Homo sapiens: one gene and its partners. The protein of the gene in region 1 interacts with the protein of each later gene in a pairwise test. Each region holds a gene or a part of one and is shown in the gene's direction. Other genes may lie near its edges. The genes, in order: GPRASP3, PTPA, EIF3B and IPO5.

The links.
Region 2: the proteins of GPRASP3 (region 1) and PTPA interact in a two-hybrid assay, tested with the Homo sapiens proteins (one study listed by BioGRID).
Region 3: the proteins of GPRASP3 (region 1) and EIF3B interact in a two-hybrid assay, tested with the Homo sapiens proteins (one large-scale study listed by BioGRID).
Region 4: the proteins of GPRASP3 (region 1) and IPO5 interact in a two-hybrid assay, tested with the Homo sapiens proteins (one study listed by BioGRID).

Annotation. Positions count from the first base shown.
Region 1 is NC_000023.11:102,722,986-102,727,967, forward strand, and holds part of GPRASP3 (G protein-coupled receptor associated sorting protein 3), read left to right. Parts: exon of another isoform or gene 1-1,876; intron 1,877-4,982. UniProt on the Homo sapiens protein: Survival and differentiation promoting protein that plays a role in the regulation of neurosynaptogenesis. Induces phosphatase PP2A activity which results in APP dephosphorylation and inhibits BACE1-mediated processing of APP.
Region 2 is NC_000009.12:129,116,960-129,121,941, forward strand, and holds part of PTPA (serine/threonine-protein phosphatase 2A activator), read left to right. Parts: intron 1-3,553; coding exon 3,554-3,651; intron 3,652-4,982. UniProt on the Homo sapiens protein: PPIases accelerate the folding of proteins. It catalyzes the cis-trans isomerization of proline imidic peptide bonds in oligopeptides. Acts as a regulatory subunit for serine/threonine-protein phosphatase 2A (PP2A).
Region 3 is NC_000007.14:2,370,940-2,375,921, forward strand, and holds part of EIF3B (eukaryotic translation initiation factor 3 subunit B), read left to right. Parts: intron 1-837; coding exon 838-910; intron 911-1,733; coding exon 1,734-1,856; intron 1,857-3,588; coding exon 3,589-3,667; intron 3,668-4,449; coding exon 4,450-4,588; intron 4,589-4,982.
Region 4 is NC_000013.11:98,015,190-98,020,171, forward strand, and holds part of IPO5 (importin-5), read left to right. Parts: intron 1-340; coding exon 341-452; intron 453-536; coding exon 537-592; intron 593-1,539; coding exon 1,540-1,662; intron 1,663-3,295; coding exon 3,296-3,515; intron 3,516-4,391; coding exon 4,392-4,620; intron 4,621-4,982. UniProt on the Homo sapiens protein: Functions in nuclear protein import as nuclear transport receptor. Serves as receptor for nuclear localization signals (NLS) in cargo substrates.

The DNA of each region.
Region 1 (4,982 bases):
GAATGTCCTCAGTGCAACAAAATGATAAATATTTAAGGTGATGTATATCTCAATTACATTACACATTCTATGCTTATATCAAAATATAATTTATACCCCATAAATATGTACAAATATTGCATATCCATGTGAATTAAAAATTTTAAAAAATTTTAAAAATAACTCATTTCAAATTTCAATCAAAATAAAAAAGATCAAATGCTGATTTCTTCATATATCACAATACATACAAAGTCAGTGTAAGAAAGTGTTGCTAGGAAGAAATGACTTTTTCTAATCCCACTCCTATCCTTATGTTTATACCAAGTTTATAGAGTTGAAACTATGTTGTTCTACTACTTTAAGCCCTCCTATTTAGACTTAAAAGCTAGGATAGATACAAGGTATGTGGGGCAAAATCATAGGTAGAGATTAGTCCCTAGGACTGCATCCTCGTCTCCTACCCTCTCCTATTATTTTCTTCTCTTTACTCTCCAGAATTCTGATAATATAAGTACTGGGGCCAGCATTCAGCTTATGGTTTTCTACTCAAGCTGTCTTGTCTCTTGTCTCTGTGTGTTTTTTCGAGTATGTCAACAGAGAAGACTTCAAGTATGGTGTGGTATAATAGAGAATATAGCTGATCTTTATCCCTAGTTGCTGACACAGCTTCAAAAAATCTTGGAATTTCCTGTGTGACAGGAGTATCTTTGTTATGCTAATGAAGTGACTTATGGTGGGCCCCTAGATAGCTTCAGGATGGGGACTGGTCACCAGAAGGACCAACCATGTGATTAAAGGGTTGGAACTTTGGGCCAGCTCAACCTTCAGGGAAGGTAGTGGGGCTAGGTATTAAGTTCAATCACAACCAATGGTTTAATCAATCTTGCCTATGTAATAAAACCCCAGTGAAAACTTTGAACTTCAGGGATAAGTGGAGCTTCTTGGTTGGTGAACATATTGTTCTCTAGGGAGAGTGGTGTACCCTGACTCCATAAGGAGAGGGTATGGAAGCTTTGTGTCCAGAATGCTTTCAGACCTTGTCCTGTGTATATCCTTAAATGAAACTGTAATAATAAGAATAGCACTTTTCTTGAGTTCTACGAGTTGTTTCAGTTAATTATGAAACCTCATAATGTCATAGGAACTCCTGAATTTATAAGTGGTCAGTCAGAAGCATGGGTGGCTTCCTGAGAATTGGGGCTGGTATCTGATCTAAAGTGGGGGCAGTATTGTTGGTGATTGTGCCCTTAAACCTGTGGAGTCCAATGCTAACTCCAAGTAGTTGGTTTCAAATATTTGATATCAGAACAATAGTGTAATTTTCCCTAGTTTTAGCAGCCACACCTAGATTAATATACATAAAGCTTACCTTTGCTGTGTATTCTACATCAACAAGTTAAAATGAAGGATTCAGACCCAACAGTGTATTATGGGTGAAAAAAGCAGTCTGTTTTTGTGGCATGTACCTGTAATTTAGATAATTTTTAAAATTATCTATGTATCTATTTATCTATATCTATCTATGTGTCTATCTATCTAATCTATCTATCCATCTATCCTGTCATCATTTTTTTTCTTATCACAGCTCCCTTAGCCTAGAATTCCTGTTGTGGGTATTGCATTTATATTTAGAAAACTTCAAATTGTGGCCTGATTAAATACTTCTAAGTCCCAAATGTACTCCAAAGCAGATACTTAAACAGTTTATGCCTGTAGAATTTTTTAATCTCAGCCGAAGAGCAGGGTGACTGGTGTGTGTGTGTGTGTGTGTGTGTGTGTGTGTGTGTATCCAAGCAAAATGATGATTGCCTTTGTTCTGACTTGTAGCGGGTAGAATCCTTCCTCAATTATTTTTCTGGGGTGTAGTTGAAATAAAAACTTCATCATTCACTCAGTCCTCTTGTTCCTTCTCCCTTTTTTGATAAATATTATGGGCTACTTTATATAATAGAGGCTACTTCAGATGTCACTTGGCCTAAAATGTTGTTGTGTGGGGATAGTATCAGAGTGAATTTTTCATCTGTCTAGTCTGGACTTTTAGCAGCCACTAATTCTCAACTCTGCCCCCAATTTCAAAAGAGCAACCTTCAATGGGATCTCATCTATAAAATACCACCAGATTTTCTATCAAGGCTTTCACAACCTTGCACCCTTTAATACAAGTCTGCCTTTCTATCTCCATCTCTCATAACATTCTTCCAAGTCAAGGCCAGGACTAGAATGAAATGAAGAAAGAAGCTCTTGTTCTCAAGTGCCTCACACTATTCCAGGCCTTGCCCCACTTTGCCTGCAGTCAAGCCCCACTGGAAAATCTGTTGTTTTCCCAACTGTATTGTGTGCTTTACTACTTTTATGCCTTTCCCACATGCTGTCCCTTCAATCTTCAATGTTCTTACCCTTTTTCTGTCTATGGGAAACATCATTTGGGCTCAGTTCAAATGCCAGGGCCTTTTTGAAGTCTGATACCTCCTCGCCCTTATCCCTTGCCCCTTGGTAGGAAGTAATTCCTCCATTCTTTGTACTTACACAATATTTTATTTGCCACTTGGCCACTTGTTTCTTTTTTTTTTTTTTTTTGAGACGGAGTCTCACTTCGTCACCCAGGCTGGAGTGCAGTGGCACGATCTCAGCTCACTGCAACTTCTGTCTCCCAAGTTCAAGCGATCCTCCTGCCTCAGCCCCGCTAGTAGCTGGGATTACAGGCACACACCACTGATTTTTGCACCATTAATTTATGCCCGGCTAATTTTTGTATTTTTAGTGGAGACAGGGTTTTGCCATGTTGGCCAGGCTGCTCTTGAACTCCTGACCTCAGGTGATCCACCCGCCTCGGCCACCCAAAGTGCTGGGATTACAGGCGTGAGCCACTGCGCCCATCCCACTTGTTTCTTTATACCATGCATCAGAGTCTTTTTATTTTTTTATTTTTATTTTTTAATGAATAACATAGAACTAGTGTTGAGGGACAGGAAGCATAGAGAAAGAAGCTTGGACTCTGGAAGTGTGATTCAAACCCCAGTCTGTCTGACTGCAAAGCCTGAATGTTTACTACTTAAAATAGTAATTTGTGTTAATATTAAGATTTATTGGATTTATTGGGTGATTTCTATGTGCCAGGGTACTCTACTAAGGGCTCTAAATGTATTCACTTAGTTAATCCTCAAAACAAACTTATGAGGTAGGTGCTGCTATTGTTTCCATTCTACATATGAGGAAGCTGAGGCACACATTGGTTAAGTAGCTTAGCCAACCTCACTGAGTTGGTTAGCAGAGGAGGTGACATTCCCACCTTTGTGGTTTGAATCTGGAGCTGATGTGCATTACTTCTATGCTATGTCTATATTCCTCCAGTGCTAGTTATCAATAAAAGCATCCATGATCATTGTAACTGTTTTTACAATCAGATCTTCTGTTCCTCAAAGCTTGTAGCAAAGTATTTATCATAAAGAAATTAAACCTGAATATTGTTAGACCTCCTGTCCCTTATCCTTTTTTCCCTGTTTATCAGCCTATTCCACCCTTTCCTTCCTTCCCAACCCAATGCCCATCACAGTACTTATTTTTACTACTCTTCTACCTCATCCTCTAGTGCCTGGCTCCACTGTCCTGGAGAAACCCCAACTCTGGATAAATCTCAAGTATCTACGACTTTCTATACCTTTGTTGTTTAGTGCACCTGGGAAAATTAATCATATTGTTCTAACTGTCGACACTGTAAATGTGTCTTTCTCAATATCAGCACAGTCCCCTGAACTGAAAGCAGGTAACCTTTGATATCTTTATAATCTGGATATTTCACAAGGGTGCACCTTCACACAATGATCCTCTGAATTGAAACTAGGTTTATCTATTATCTTAAGTATTTAATGTACCTCTGGACCTCCTAGATAAGTCAGAGTTTGGCTTCTGCCTAAAGCTTTACTTTTTAATCTGGAGCAGAAGCCAAACAGTTGTCAGACCTCTAGCAATCATTAGGACACGTGTTGAGAATTTCTGGCTTTTCTTTCCTGGGAAACATGAGTTCTGCTACTGCAGATGTAGGTGCTCACTGATGCTCACTGATGGACACAAGTCAGGAATTCTTACTCACTGAAGAGCTGTTTTGTGCCTGAGCACATCTAGGATTGTTCCATTTTCATATAACAAGGAATTCAACTAAAACTAACTTAATAAGGAAATTAATTATCCAATGATTGTAAGTACTGACGTAGGGCAGCCTTGATGGTTGTTTAATTCAGCGAAGGACTCAGCTTTTTTCCGTCTCTTTCTTCTGCCATTCACAATATCAACTTCCGTCCTAAGGCTGATAGCTTGATGGCTACAACAATTCCAGGAGGTAAGCAACTTCCTGAGGAAGAAGAAAAGACAATCTTTTCTGATGACTTTGTCTTATGAATGAGGACACTTTCCTCAGAAGTCCATCTGTAACCTTCCCCTAATGTCACATTGAGTGGAATTTGATCAATGCCTCTTCCTAAACAAGAGAGTACCAAGGGGATAGATTATCCGTAGACCAAAGAGACTCACTCTTGGAAATGGAATTAGCCTCTCTGTGACATGTGACTAAAAGGAGGAGAAAGTCAGTAACCTGCAGTGGCAACTATGCAAAAATGGCATCCTTTTAGTAAAGGGTTATGGTAAGCAACACAGAATATACAAAGCACTGAGGCTACAGCACAAAGAGCACAGTGACACTGACTTAGCAATTATGACCTTTAAAAACCATGTAGTTCTCATCTATTCTTTCTTGCTTTCTCCAGCCCACTCCATAATAGGAATAGATCAGAAATTTTAAAAGAACTAGAAAGATCTGATATACACATGTTGTGCAGGATATCAAATAGTTTTCTCAGTATACACAATAATCCTGTAAAGTAGTTAATGCCAGCTCCCTTTTAAGGATGAAGAAACTGGGTTATAAAGACGTTAAGTACCTTTGCTAAAGTTACACAAATAGTGACAAAGTCTGTATTCAGACTTTGGACTGTCTGGCTCTGAAA
Region 2 (4,982 bases), on another chromosome or scaffold:
CCTGGTCTAGATTTTCTTCTTTCTACAAGTTATGAAAATTTCCATTATGTGGGCATATAATTAATTACACATCATCTTATCAACTGATATTTGGGTTGTTTCTAATTTTTTTTTGTTTTCAAGACAGGGTCTTGCTCTGTCACCCAGGCTGGAGTGCAGCTCACTTCAGCCTCAGCCTCCTGGGCTCAAGTGATCCTCCCGCCTCAGCCCCCGAATAGCTAGGACTACAGGTGTGCACCACTACACCTGGCTAATTTTTGTATTTTTTGTAGAGATGGGGTTTGGCCATGTGGTCCAGGCTGGTTTCAAACTCCTGGACTCAAGCAATCTGCCTGCCTCGGCCTCCCGAAGTTTTGGGATTATAGGCGGGAGGCACTGTGCCTGGCCTAGATTTTATTCATTTTATAAGCTATGAAAATTTTTATTATGTGGGCCTATCTTTTTTTTCTCTTTTTTAAATTTGAGACGGAGTCTTGCTGTGTTGCCCAGGCTGGAGTGCAGTGGCGTGATCTTGGCTCACTGCAACCTCTGCCTCCTGGGTTCAAGCGGTTCTTCTGCCTCAGCCTCCCGAGTAGCTGGGATTACAGGTGTGCGCCACCATGCCTGGCTAATTTTTTGTATTTTTAGTAGAGGTGGAATTTCGCTATGTTGGCCAGGCTGGTCTTGAACTCCTGGCCTCAAGTGATCCACCCGCCTCGGATTCCCAAAGTGTTGGGATTACAGGTGTGAGCCACCACACCCAGCCTCTTTTTTTTTTTAAGACAGTCTCACTCTGTCACCCAGGCTGGAGTGCAGTGGAACGGTCCAGCTCACTGCAAGCTCTGCCTCCCCAGTTCAAGCGATTCTCCTGCTTCAGCCTCCCAAGTAGCTGGGATTACAGGTGTGTGCCGTCATGTCAGGCTAATTTTTGTATTTTTTAGTAGAGATGGGGTTTCAATATGTTTCCCAGGCCTGGTCTGGAACTCCTGACCTCAAATGATCCACCTACCTCAGCCTCCCAAAGTTCTGGGATTACAGGTGTGAGTCACCATGCCGGACCTGGGCATATCATTATTTACCCATTGTCTTATCAACTGATATTTGAGTTGTTTCTTTTTTTTTTTTTTCCCCCGAGATGGAGTCTTGCTCTGTCAACCAGAGCTGGAGCGCAATGGCACGATCTCAGCTCACTGTAACCTCTGCCTCCTGGGTTCAGGCAATTCTCCTGCCTCAGCCTCCTGAGTAGCTAGGATTACAGGTGTGCGCCACCACACTTGGCTAATTTTTGTATTTTTAGTAGAGATGGGGTTTCACCTTGTTGGCCAGGCTGGTTTCGAACTCCTGATCTCGTGATCTGCCTGTCTTGGCCTCCCAAAGTGCTGGGATTACAGGTGTGAGCCACCACGCCCAGCCTATTTGGGTTGTTTCTAATTAATAAAAAATTTTTTTATTTGAGTCAGAGTTTCACTCTTGTTGCCTAGGCTGGAGTGCGATGGCACGATCTTGGCTCACTGCAACCTCTGCCTCCTGGTTCAAGCAATTCTCCTTCCTCAGCCTCCCAAGTAGCTGGGATTATAGGCATGCGCCACCACACCTGAATAATTTTATATTTTTAGTAGAAATGGGGTTTCACTATGTTGGTCAGGCGCATCTCCAACTCCTGACCTCAGGTGTGATCCACCCACTTTGGCCTCCCAAAGTGCTGGGATTGTAGGCATGAGCCACCGCGCCCCGCCTAAAATTTTTTTTTTTTTAAAGTAGAGATGGGGTCTCGCTGTGTTGCCCAGGTTGGTGTCAAACTCCTGGACTCAAGTGATCCTCCCACCTGGGGCTCCCAAAGTGCTGAGATTACAGGTGTGAGCCACTATGCCCAGCTTTTTTTTTTTTTTTTGATGCATTAAACACCTTTGTGTTTCCGTGAGCACATCTGAAAGATAGATTCCTGTAAGTAGACCTGTTGACTCATTGTGTATATGCAGTTTTTTATTCCAAAAGATTGTCCCCTTAGGAGGTCCTTCCCACCCACAGAGCGGGAGAATTCTTGTTTCCTCTTCCTGGAATCTTGTTTTGTTTTTATTGAGACAGAGTCTCGTTCTGTTGTCCAGGCTGGAGTGCAGTGGTATGATCTCAGCTCACTGCAACCCCCACCTCCTGGACTCAGGTGATCCTCCTGCTTCAGCCTCCCAAGTAGCTGGGACTACAGGTATGCAACCACACCCAGCTAATTTTTAAATTTTTTTTGTAAAGATGGCGTTTTGCCAAGTTGGCCAGCCTGGTCTTGAACCCCTGGCCTCAAGTGATCTGCCTGCCTTGGCCTCCCAAATTGCTGGGATTAGGTATGAGCCACCACACCTAGCCAGATGTTTTTAATTTGCCAACCTTATCCAGAAAGAGAAATCACATATAATTTACGTGTCCGTGCTTATTCAGGAGGTTGGCAATTTATTCCAAATGTTTACTGCAATTAGGTTTTTTTTTTTTTTTTGAGACGAAGTCTCGCTCTGTTGCCTGGGTTGGAGTGCAGTGGTGCAATCTCGGCTCACCACAAGCTCCGCCTCCCAGGTTCACGCCATTCTTCTGCCTCAGCCTCCCAAGTAGCTGGGACCGCAGGCGCCCGCCACCACGCCTGGCTAATTTTTTTGTACTTTTTTAGTAGAGATGGGATTTCACCATGTTAGCCAGGATGGTCTCGATCTCCTTACCTTGTGATCTGCCTGCCTTGGCCTCCCAAAGTGCTGGGATTACAGGCGTGAGCCACCGCACCTGACCTGTTTTTTTTTCTTCTGTGAATTGCCTGTGTATGTCTGAAACATCAACTTGGTTTTATTTTTCTAACGGTTCTGCTCTGGGGGGGAGAGGGAAGGGAGGGCATGGTTATTGAAGGGATTGTCAGTATTGCCCTTCTCTTTCCTCCCCAGAGTGAGGGAGGGCAGGAGGCTGTGGGTTTGGCTTAACAAGCCCTTACTCTGTCCTGGAAGTATGTGTCTGGTTTATTCTAAGGCTCAGGTGTTGGAGTCCTGGTTTAAAAGTGAGAGAGAGGCCGGGCGCTTTGGCTCATACCTGTAATCCCAACACTTTGGAGGCCAAGGCGGGTGGATCACCTGAGGTCAGGAGTTTGCGATCAGCCTGGCCAACATGGTGAAACCCCGTCTCTACTAAAAATGCAAAAATTAGCTAGGCATGGTGACATACGTCTGTAATCCCAGCTACTCAGAACACTGAGGCAGGAGAATCGCTTGAACCCGGGAGGCAGAGGTTGCAGTGAGCTGAGATCGCGCCACTGCACTCCAGCCTGGGCGACAGAGCGAGACTCTGTCTCAAAGAAAAAAAAAAAAATTAGCTGGGTGTGGTGGCACGTGCCTGTAATCTCAGCTACTCAGGAGACTGAGGCAGGAGAATCGCTTGAACCCTGGAGGTGGAGGTTGCATTGAGCCAAGATCGTGTCACTGGACTCCAGCCTGGGCAACAAGAGCAAAACTCCGTCTCAAGAAAAAAAAAAAAGGTGAAAGGGAGTGTGTGTGTTGTAGGGGAGGATTCTATTTATCTGTTTGTTTTTTCATTTTTTTTTGTCAAGATTCTTCAGAGGAGGCCCCTCCAGCCACTCAGAACTTCATCATTCCAAAAAAGGAGATCCACACAGTTCCAGACATGGGCAAATGGAAGCGTTCTCAGGTACCATTTGGAACTGTGGTGAGAAACTTGGGCTTTTCAAAGACAGTGGTTTTCCTAGCATGACGGGCGGTGAGTTCCTGGCCCTTCTTGCTCTTGGAGCCTGACTTTTCAGAAGCTAGGGAGAAAGGTGACAGGGGAGCTGGCTGTCTCTTCCCTTCAGAGGCAGTACTCAGAGATGCTTTATCAGGAAGGTTGCCTACTTTTTCAGGCTGCTGCCAGGGTAGCCCGGGAGAGTTCCGCTCCTGGTTCTCTTAAGCCATTGCCCCTTGAGTGTTGCTGTATTGGCTGAACATGAGTGTTTGAAATGATGGAGCGAGTCACTTTGATTCTTGGCTGCAAGTAACAGCAAGTGTGGCAGCCAGTGCCTCAAGGGGAGAAGAGGCTATCTCATGGAAACTTTGGCCAGGGATATGGCTAAGCCTGCAAATACCTGGGAGCTGGGACCCAGAGCACTGGGCACAGACTGGCTTTCTCTGCTGCTCAGCTGAAATGATGGGCAGAAGATAACTACTTGTACCTCTCAGGCTTGTGGTACAGGCTGTGGAAAGACAGACTGAGCAAAAGAAAGCCAATTTCAATTTCTCAGGGAAGGCCTCTGGCCCAGTTCTCGTCAGGCTCCTGCTCCCGGCCTGGTGAGCTGGGCTGGAGAGTGTTGCTCATGCAGAAGGCTGGGCACAGGGGTCCTTGCATGCTGGGCAGATTCTCCAGGAGACCCACACCCTACAGCTTCTATGCCTTGTCCTCACTGGGGCTTGGGGCCATCTAAACCTGTCTGATTCCTTTTTCACAAGCCTGCCCTCTCAGTATTTGGAAATAGTTATCATGTCTTTTCTGAATCTTCACCAGGATCAACAGTCCCTTCAGCCTAGGGGGCAGCTTGGTCCCTTCAGCTGCTCAAAGGATATGGTTTCAGTCCTTTCATCATCTTGGTTGCTTTACCTCGGGGCATCTCAATGTCAGCACTATGGACATTGAGGGGCAGATAATTCTTCATTGTAGGAGGCCGTCCTGTGCCATGTAGGACGTTTACTAATATCTCTGGCTTCTACCCACTAGATGTTGGCAGCATGCCTTTCCCCAGCTGTCACAACTAACATTGTCTCCAGATCTTGTCAGATCTTCTCTGAGCCAGATTGCTCTAGTTGAGAACCTGCTTCTTTGTCTGAATCCAAATGTGACACTTCCTTTGCTGCTTCTCATCCATGTGTTCCAGTGTAGCTGCAGTCAGGACAGGGGCTCAGACTTGCCCTGGTCTGAGAGAGTTGCTTTGGAGAGGCCTGGCCTGCTGGGGGTCATCCCATGGCTGGCAGGAGGATCTTGGTATAGGAATA
Region 3 (4,982 bases), on another chromosome or scaffold:
GTAGTCCCAGCTACTCGGGAGGCTGAGGCAGGAGAATGGCGTGAACCCGGGAGGCGGAGCTTGCAGTGAGCCGAGATTGCACCACTGCACTCCAGCCTGGGCAACAGAGTGAGACTCCGTCTCAAAAATAAATAAATAAATAAATGTTTTTGTCACCCTACAAAGAAACAACATACCTGTTAGCAGCCTCTCCGCCCAGCTCCTGGCATCACGAATGTCTATGATTTCCCTATTCTGAACACACAGCTGGAATCGGATACTATGCCACCTTCTGTGTTTGACCTCCTTCACGGAGCACAGCGTTCCCACAGCTGGTCCACGGTGCTGAGTGTCAGCAGTAATCTCTTGTTGGGTGGACCCCGTTTCTTGGCCTCCTTCCTCTGTTGATGGACATCAGGGCAGTTTTCCCTCAGACTCCTCGAGTAGGGCAGGACTTCTTGAAGGTTATGGCTACAGGACACCCCACTGTCTGAAGTGGTTTACCCAGCCCCATTGGTGTGCCTTTAGGGCCCTCAGGACCCTGGCCTGCAGCCTGCAGTGTGGACCCTGGGACTGCTTGTGCCCAAGTGTGGCGGGCAGGGCGGCTCCTGGAGGTGGGATCTGGGTCAGAGTTACTTCATGCATGTCCAGTGGCTTCCAGTAGACGTGGTGCCGGCAGTTCTCCAGCCTTAGAACCGTCTTCCATCCTGAGGGCTGTGGCTTTCATCACTGCACATGCTCGTGTGTGAACCAGGCATGCACACTGAATCTTTCATTGTGACGTTGATCTTTGATTTAAACCTTTTCTCATATTTTCACTGTCCAGAATGTCACCCCTTCCCCCTTTTTTTTAAACAGGGTGTTGTCACAAATTTTGAAATTTTCCGAATGAGGGAGAAACAGGTACCTGTGGATGTGGTCGAGATGAAAGGCAAGTTGTATTTTAGTCACTTTGAGGCGAATGGGGCCTACGTGCTGTTTTACTCTTGGCTTTAACACTTCCATGCGAGGGGTTGTCTGAGCAGCTGAGTCAGGACTGTGAGCCCTCACCATGAATAGTCATCTCCAGGTCACAGAACGTGTTTAGAGCCTGGGCAACATAGTGAGACCCTCTCTGTACAAAAAACAAATAAAAAAAATTAGCCAGGTGTGGTGGTGCGCACCGATAGTCCCAGCTGTTTGAGACGCTGAAGCGGGAGGATCACTTGAGCCCAGGAGCAGAGGTTGCAGTGAACTGAGATTGCGCCCCTGCACTCCAGCCTGGGTGACGGAGCAAGACCCTGTCTAAAAAAAAGAGAAAAGAGATTGAGCCTGTGTTCTTGTTTGGCTTTTTGTTTTGCCATGGAGAAAAGGAGGAAGGAAGGGTTAAAAATAGGTGAGAAAATGGGAAACATGGCCGCCCTTCCAGGCAGGGAGACCGGAGGTCAGGATCCCACTGTAGGTGCACACTGGGTGCGAGGGAAGCGGCATCCACAGCTGCTGACAATGTCGGGCTCCTGCGGTCCTGCTGTGGGTGTCCTGCTCTCAGGAAGGGAGCAGTTTCACGTAGGTCACTCCACACAAGTGGAAGCAGCTGTCTCTGAAACTCCAGGAATGTGCACCTTTCCTGCTGTTGCTTGCTCTCCCGTCCTTTTAATGAACTTTTACACGTCGGGGGATATTTCTCTGTGGTTGAATAGTGAACATTTTAACTGATCAAGAGCACTATGTTCTGAATTGACCAAAAAGGGAGGGGTCTGTTTTGTGCATTTTAGAAACCATCATAGCCTTTGCCTGGGAACCAAATGGAAGTAAGTTTGCTGTGCTGCACGGAGAGGCTCCGCGGATATCTGTGTCTTTCTACCACGTCAAAAACAACGGGAAGATTGAACTCATCAGTAAGTAACCTGGTCCCTTTCCTCTTCTGAGTAGGTCAGCACAGATGATGACCCAGTCGCTGCCCAACAGTGAGCATTTGACTGGCCTAGGACCACTGCTGGGCAGGCCGGGACTCGCCTATGAATGGGGTGTGGCCTCGGCTGATGGAAGTGAGCGATGGCCTGGAGGTGCCGCCTCCTTGCAGGGTGTCTCTCTGAGCCCCGTTGAGCCCTCACGTTTAAGCGAGTATTTCCAAGGCTTCCATTCTCTGCCATCATCTCAAGTGAAGCTTTTTCTCTTCTGGCTGTAGCTGCTGTCCCTGGGCTTGGGGTCACTTCCTGTGGACATACTCCTGCCAGTCCCCAGTCTGGGTCAGGTGCCTTTGACCAGGGTGCGCAGAGCTGTTGCACACAGCTGTACTCTGCCCCCGTGCACCCGGTTCCAGGGGTGCCACACTGCACCCACCTGGGGCTCGCTCCTCACAGTGGTGCGTGGGCCCTCGCCTGTCTCACGGCACCTGCTGCCTGTGCCCTCAGCTCCTCACTTCATCCTGGGGTCTCTGCTCAGCACAGAGCCCGGTGCCCGCGGGGATTGAATGAGCCATTGCTTGTTGCTTCATAGGCGTGGGGTGTGTGTGTGTGGTAGCCAGGAGGTGGCGATGGGCTGTGTTCCTCACACAGGACTCTGGCTGCCAGCTGCCCTCCTGCAGAGCCATGGGTTTGGCTCTGTACCAGGAAGGGGTTGGAATCTCCTGGCCGCACCTTTCGCAGCATGATTCTGTGAGGAGTTTAGTTTTCACTTTGCTAGAGCTTGGCAGGGTGCGTGGTGCCCTCAGTTGGCAGTGGATTACAAGATTGGCTGTTTCATTAATTCTGGTTGATAGAAACATATGGGCAATTGCAGACTGTCCAGAGACTTGTGTAAGTCTTCTAGGTCATAAAACATAGGCAAGCAGAGGCACCTTGTACCTTCCAAACATGCTGCGTGACACGCCTCTCCTGAGGTTTGGCATGGACGCTGGGGCCACCGCATGGGCTCCATCCCATGCCCGTGGCTGTTGGGGTTTTCGCTTGTGCAAGTCTGAGACCCCTGCCCCTGCCAGGGTGCACTGCCCTCCCACATCTCCTCCCCTCCTCCCCACGTCAGCCTGCCCCATGCCTCTTTTTTGGATGTACCACAGGCTGAGGGGAGAGAGGCCACAGGTTGTCAGCTCTGTTTGAGATGCAGGGAGCATATGCTCTGAGGGGGACTTGAGCCAGCCCCAGCTGGCCTTCACTTCTCACTGTTCCAGCGGCTCTGCCCGAGATCCATTCCGGAAGTAAGAGTTAGTACCTGCAAAGATGATGACTGTAGTCAGTTTCAACAAGCATACAGCTTATCCAAAGACGCCTTGTCGCTAGGAGAGTGGCTTTGGTCTTTTGGGGTCACACGTCTCTGACATCTCTCTGTTGGGGTCCCTGCAGCAGTGAACATTTGCTGTAAAGGGAATTCTTTGTCCAGTTACCTCAGGAAATAAGATAGTATTGTTTTGAAATACCCCTGTCGCATCTTCTTTTTTTTCCCATTTAAAGTATGGATCATGACTTAGGGGGTACTTGGCGATGGACTTTGTAAAATTGTTTTCCGAGGTGGTCCAGCATTACCAGCTCTGCCCTCATGGGCAGCATGAGCACGGCCAAGTCCTCCAGCCTTGGCTGCCCCGGCACTGTGGAAGCCCTCGCAGCTCGTGACAGGCGCGCTCTTTCCTTTCAGAGATGTTCGACAAGCAGCAGGCGAACACCATCTTCTGGAGCCCCCAAGGACAGTTCGTGGTGTTGGCGGGCCTGAGGAGGTAGGTGTCTGCGCTCTGAGCCTGTCCGCCCTGTGAGTAGCGCTCTGCTGTGGCAGAGACCCCTCAGGCGCCTGCACCCGGCTTCTTGGTAGAGAGAGTATTGTGCGCTGAAAGGGTTGCCCCAGTGTCAGTGGATAGGACTTCATTGAACCTCTGCAGACCCACGGTACTCCAGGACTCAGGCCAAGCCCGCACAGAGTGAAATAAGCGCTCCCAGATGCTTTCGTGAAGTGACCAGGCAGACCTGTCTGCGGGTTGTGGTTCTCTGTGGTTAAACAAGTGCCTTCCAGCCATCCAGTAACCTCCCCCCGGGGGTCAGTCCCTTGTCTTCTAGTGGGAAGGGTATTCGTTACACAGCTGTGAGGCTGCCTTACCTTTGTGGTTGGTGTCACGGTGTCGGTCTCAGCTGTGTTCCAGCAGTGTGTCGAAATCATGGAGAAGCTTCCAGCTTTCTGCTCTGAGTTAAAAGAATACCCTTTTGTTGCTGCTCTCCCTTGCTTCATTGTCCACACTTGCTACTGTATTTTTGGAGGCTTACTTAGCCTCAGATAACATTTCCAGTAAAAATAATATGATGGCAGTCATATGTAATACTCACTGCACACTCTGCATCTGTGATTTGGTAAGTCTCACAGCGGCCACCAGAGGCTGTTGCTGTGCTTGTTTCCATGTTAACGCCGAGGCTGGCTCCCTGGGGACCCCATGCCGCAGCACCTCTCAGGAGTGGGATGCCAGGAGGTATGCGTCTCCATGAAGCCTGACGGTCCTGTCTGTCTTTGCAGTATGAACGGTGCCTTAGCGTTTGTGGACACTTCGGACTGCACGGTCATGAACATCGCAGAGCACTACATGGCTTCCGACGTCGAATGGGATCCTACTGGGCGCTACGTCGTCACCTCTGTGTCCTGGTGGAGCCATAAGGTGCAGGCCTGTGGGGCATAGTTTTGACTGTGGATAGAAGCAGGGAGTGCTGGCTAGCTGCTGACTCTGGTGCTGTCCTGGGACCTCAGGGAAGGGGCACCAAGCCTCTGTGTTGAACAGAAGCCTTGGCTGGTGTTAGTGGCAGGAGGAGGAGGATTCTGGGTTGTAGAAGAGGTGGCGCCGAGTGCAGGAGCAGCCCCTGCTCATGGTTGCGGGGAGGTGGGGGGTCTTACCCTGGGCCCAGGGACCCCTGAAAAGGAGTGAGAATGTCTGCAGAGAGGAGTCGTTTCCTTTGAAGTCTGAACAGAGTTCCATAACCGCAGACATTAAGATCTGTTTTGGGGTCAGTGGTTGAGTCCAGCTGCCGCGTTACCCACAACTCGTATTCCAAAAC
Region 4 (4,982 bases), on another chromosome or scaffold:
TATGTTGTGTGTACGGAGTATGGATATAGCAATTGTGTTCCTTAGGAGCTGGTTGTGTGTGTGTGTGTGTGTGTGTGTGTGTTTTCCATCTTTGAATCCTCAGTACCAAGCATGATGCCTGGCACCTAGGTATGCTCAGTAGTGTTCAAAAGAAAATATTTTTTTCTAACTCCAATCTCTAAAATGCTGTCATTCTAACAAATACAAGCTAAGCATATGTAAATAATCTTCCAGGATACTGAACTGTGTTCATTTTTCCATATGATTCTTAGTGGAGTTTAACTTTGGACTCCAAACACCCCAAATCTTATGGATTGCTTTCTTTCCTCAACCTCATTAGTGCATTGAAGTAATGGGAGATGGATGCCTTAATAATGAACACTTTGAAGAACTGGGAGGTATATTGAAAGCAAAGCTTGAAGAACATTTTAAAAATCAAGAATTACGACAAGGTAAGTTTTCCATGCTTTTATTTCTGAATATAATCCTTGACCATCTTGGCAATCATTTAAAACATTTATTTGGGTGTGTTTTAGTTAAAAGACAAGATGAAGACTATGATGAACAGGTCGAAGAGTCACTACAAGATGAGGTAAGTTATTCCCTTTGGAACTTACTTACGTGACCACTTGCATCTGAAAGACTTGTAAATGCCTCAATTTCTGATTTATGTGACTTGTCATTCTGATGTAATTATCAGTCTTTAGCAGAGGAGTCAGATATATTTCCTCTCTTAATTTATGAATAAGTAATTTGAAATTAAACTGATATGTCTTTCGGTGCTATGTGCATTTTGTTGTAATACCTCACTCAACAAAACACCTTGAGGTTTACCTAGTTCATTTACATACTGCTCACAACAACCATTTGTATTTTGTGGTGCTTTCACTATATTAAAGATGAGTAACCTAAAATTCCAGTGTTAAATGATTGCCTAGAGTCACACTGTTGACGGTCTGGGGCCTTTTTCACCATGTTACTTAGTTCTCTCATCAAACCACCTAGGACTGTCAAGCATACTTCATTGTGTGTTTAGAGTCCAGCATCTCATATGTGGCCACTTGGTGGGCCAGTGCTACCGTGTAGGTAGTACCAGCTTCCTGAAGGTGCCCACATGCTTGTAGGCCCAAATTGCCACTAACAGCGAGACCCCATTCTCCCCACCATCCACCCCGAAATGAGGATTATTCTGCTGAAAACAAAGTAAAAATAGTGAAAACACCTTTGTTTCAGAATGTAGAAATTAGAGATAATTTTTCAACCCATCTATTTTAAGTATGTTCCAAGGAAAATCTTTGCAATAAATACAGTTCTTGCCACACACCTTTGTCTTTCGAGGTAAGACTGGCCTTTGATTAGTAAGAGACATGATAACCCACACTTGAGGGTTACTCCGGTCTCTAGACTCTTGATTTACCCTTAAAACAGGAATGAGAAATTGATTTTCTGCATTTTTTAAGGTTTTTATAAATGTTACTATTGATAATAGAAAATATACTTTTTAATCCATATGAGTGTTTATGTGTATGTTTTTTTTAGGATGATAATGATGTTTATATTCTGACCAAAGTGTCAGATATTTTACACTCAATATTCAGTAGCTACAAAGAAAAGGTGTTACCATGGTTTGAACAGCTGCTTCCATTAATTGTCAACCTCATTGTAAGTGTTACCTCTCTTAATAGTTGTTTTGCGTAGTTTACCTGGAATTCTTTTCACTGCAACGTAAAATCTAATGCTTGAAGTTAAAATGGGTCTCAGAAATGATTGTTTCCATTGTACATCTTTGATTTTATCAAGTTGACTGCATTACCCTGGATATTTTCTCATTCATTATATGCTTGAAGATTCCTAACTTGGTTTTCCATAGGCCAATTCAGTTCTAACACATCTGAAAGATATATAAGTGATTTTTTTTATTATTTCAGATTATCTGTGCCCTCCTAAATTAATAAAAGGAAACAGAATGGTTACTTCTTTTTTAGTGGACCATAGATAATTCAATTATCTTTGTTATGTACTACCAGCAATCATGGATTATGGATAATGGGCATATATATATATATATGTATTTTTTTTTTACCTTCTCTCACCCTTATATTTGATTTTTTTAAAATGTTTTATAGACTTCTTTTTGTTTGTTTGTTTGTTTGTTTTTCTCAAGATGGAGTCTTGCTCTGTCGCCCAGGCTGGAGTGCAGTGGTGCAATCTCGGCTCACTGCAACCTCCGCCTTCTGGGTTCAAGCAATTCAGACGCACGCCACCACACCCGACGAATTTTTTGTATTTTAGTAGAGATGGGGTTTCACCATGTTGACCAGGCTGGTCTCCAACTCCTGACCTAGTGATCCACCCGCCTCGGCCTCCCAAAGTGCTGGGATTACAGGCATGAGCCACTGCGCCCAGGCCTACGCTTCCTATTTTAAAGCAGTTTTAGATTCACAACCAAATTGAACAGGAGGTACAGAGATTTCCCATGTGCCTCTGCCCCTGTGCGTGCATGGCCTCAGCACCATTAACACCCCCCATCACAGTAGTAGATACATGTGTTTCTGTTATGGACCTACATCAACACATCATATAATGGCCTATGTGTATTCAGTTTTTTTGTTTGTTTTGTTTTTTTGTATTTTTAGTTGTGTTTTTTTGTTGGGTTTTTAGTAGAGATGGGGTTTCACCATATCGGCCAGACTGGTCTCAACCTCCTGACCTTGTGATCCGCCCACTTTGGCCTCCTAAAGTGCTGGGATTACAGGCGTGAGCCACCTCGCCTGGCTGTGTATTCGGTTTTTAAAAAATATATTATAAATTAGCAGCTATCATCAGATGTTTGGAATTTTTCTTTTTGGCTTTCAATTTTGCATTTTATTGTATTAAGTAGTGCAGTACATTTTTTAAAAGATTCGGGCACACATGACTTAGCCTGTTGAATAAATGCTATAAGTTAAGATCTTTGCAGCTTTTATTATTATTGTATTTTTTTAATGTAGCATTACCATTGTCTTTTTTACAAAGTAAATTTATATACAATGCTTCCACTGTCAGTTCTTCTGTGTGATAGTGTCAGATTGTAGAGTTCTGTAACAAATCATACAAGTCTTTGAAACCTAAATTTTATTAAATCTGTGTATTTGATTGAATATCGTTGGTCACAAGAAGTGGTTGTTACTATGTTTTCTTTTTTCTTTTGCCTGTATGAGGAATATCAATGTAAGCAGATAGTCTATAGTGAATATTTCTTTACATTCTTTGTGTACACCAGTATTTGAAGCTTAAAAGAGAATTTCTTTTGTAGTGTCCACATAGACCATGGCCAGACAGACAATGGGGATTATGCATCTTTGATGATGTCATAGAACACTGTAGTCCAGCCTCATTTAAATACGCAGAATATTTCTTAAGACCAATGCTCCAATATGTATGTGACAACAGCCCAGAAGTCAGGCAAGCAGCTGCATATGGCCTGGGAGTCATGGCACAGTACGGTGGAGATAATTATCGCCCTTTTTGTACAGGTACGTTTGCTTATTCCGTTACGTGCATTTCATTCCAGACATCCTGTGAATCCCTACTTTACTCTCTTTACCACACTCCCAAACATTATTTGCCTATTTCTGCTGTAGTCTGTTTTCAGACATCTCATCTGTAGCATTTAGGATTTTAGATGATAAAAAGATGATTTATTCTCATAGAAATAGAATCAAAGACATCCCCTGCCCCCAGCCTTCCAGGGTGCATTTCTCTTTGCGTTTTGGCAATATACAACAGCCTTAGAATAGGACTTTTTTTTTTTTCTTTAATTGAGGCCCAGGCTGGAGTGCAGTGGCATGATCTCGGCTCACTGCAACCTCCGCCTCCCGGGTTCGAGCAATTCTGCTTCAGCCTCCTGAGTAGCTGGGACTACAGGCGCATGCCACCACGCCTGGCTAATTTTTTCTATTTTTAGTAGAGATGGGGTTTCACCATGTTAGCCAGGATGGTCTCGATCTCCTGACCTCGTGATCGGCCCACCTCAGCCTCCCAAAGTGCTGAGATTACAGGCGTGAGCCACCACACCTGGCAGAATAGGACTTTTAAAACTTACTGGGGAATATAGTTAGGCAGCTTTTAAAGTTTAAGGACCCTCGGGTGATGTGATGAGTACTGTAAATCTGGAGGCCACTAATCTCTCTGGGTCTCTAAGTTAGTAGAGGGCTAGTGCTCCTGTCCATGCTGGGGCAGTCCCCCCTCTGTTGCCATTCTGTAATGACATAGCCAAGAAGACAACACTTCCCATACACTTTAACATTTCTTTACCATAATCAATATCTGAACCAAATACAAAAATACATATATTCATTTGCATGAAAATGTGAGGTTTTAGCTGAACTTCTTTCAAATGCTTATTTTAGAAGCACTTCCCCTGCTGGTAAGAGTTATTCAGTCTGCGGATTCTAAGACCAAAGAAAATGTCAATGCTACAGAGAACTGCATCTCAGCAGTAGGGAAAATCATGAAGTTCAAGCCTGACTGTGTAAACGTTGAAGAGGTCCTTCCACACTGGTTGTCTTGGCTTCCACTACATGAAGATAAAGAAGAAGCTGTTCAGACTTTCAATTATCTGTGTGACCTGATTGAAAGGTAGGAAAGCAGACTGTGACCTTATTTCCTTCTCCTCCACAGTGCTTCCTGGTTTTTCTTGCCTAACATCAGTCTTTTAAGGTTTAACCACATGATCTCTGCACAGTCCTCAGTTGTATAGGTTTATAATAGTGCTGTCTTTATAAATCATATTAAGAAACCATATCACAGTTAACATTGCCCTTATAATAAGGTCTAATTTTGAGTTATTCTTTATGAAATTAGATTCAACAGATGAGGCACTTTAATTATTTATTTCTTTGTTTTTAAATTTTTTTGGTAGCGACAAGGTCTTAACTGTTTTGCACAGGCAGGTCGCAAACTCTTGGCCTCAAGAGATCCTCCCACCTCAGCCTCCCAAA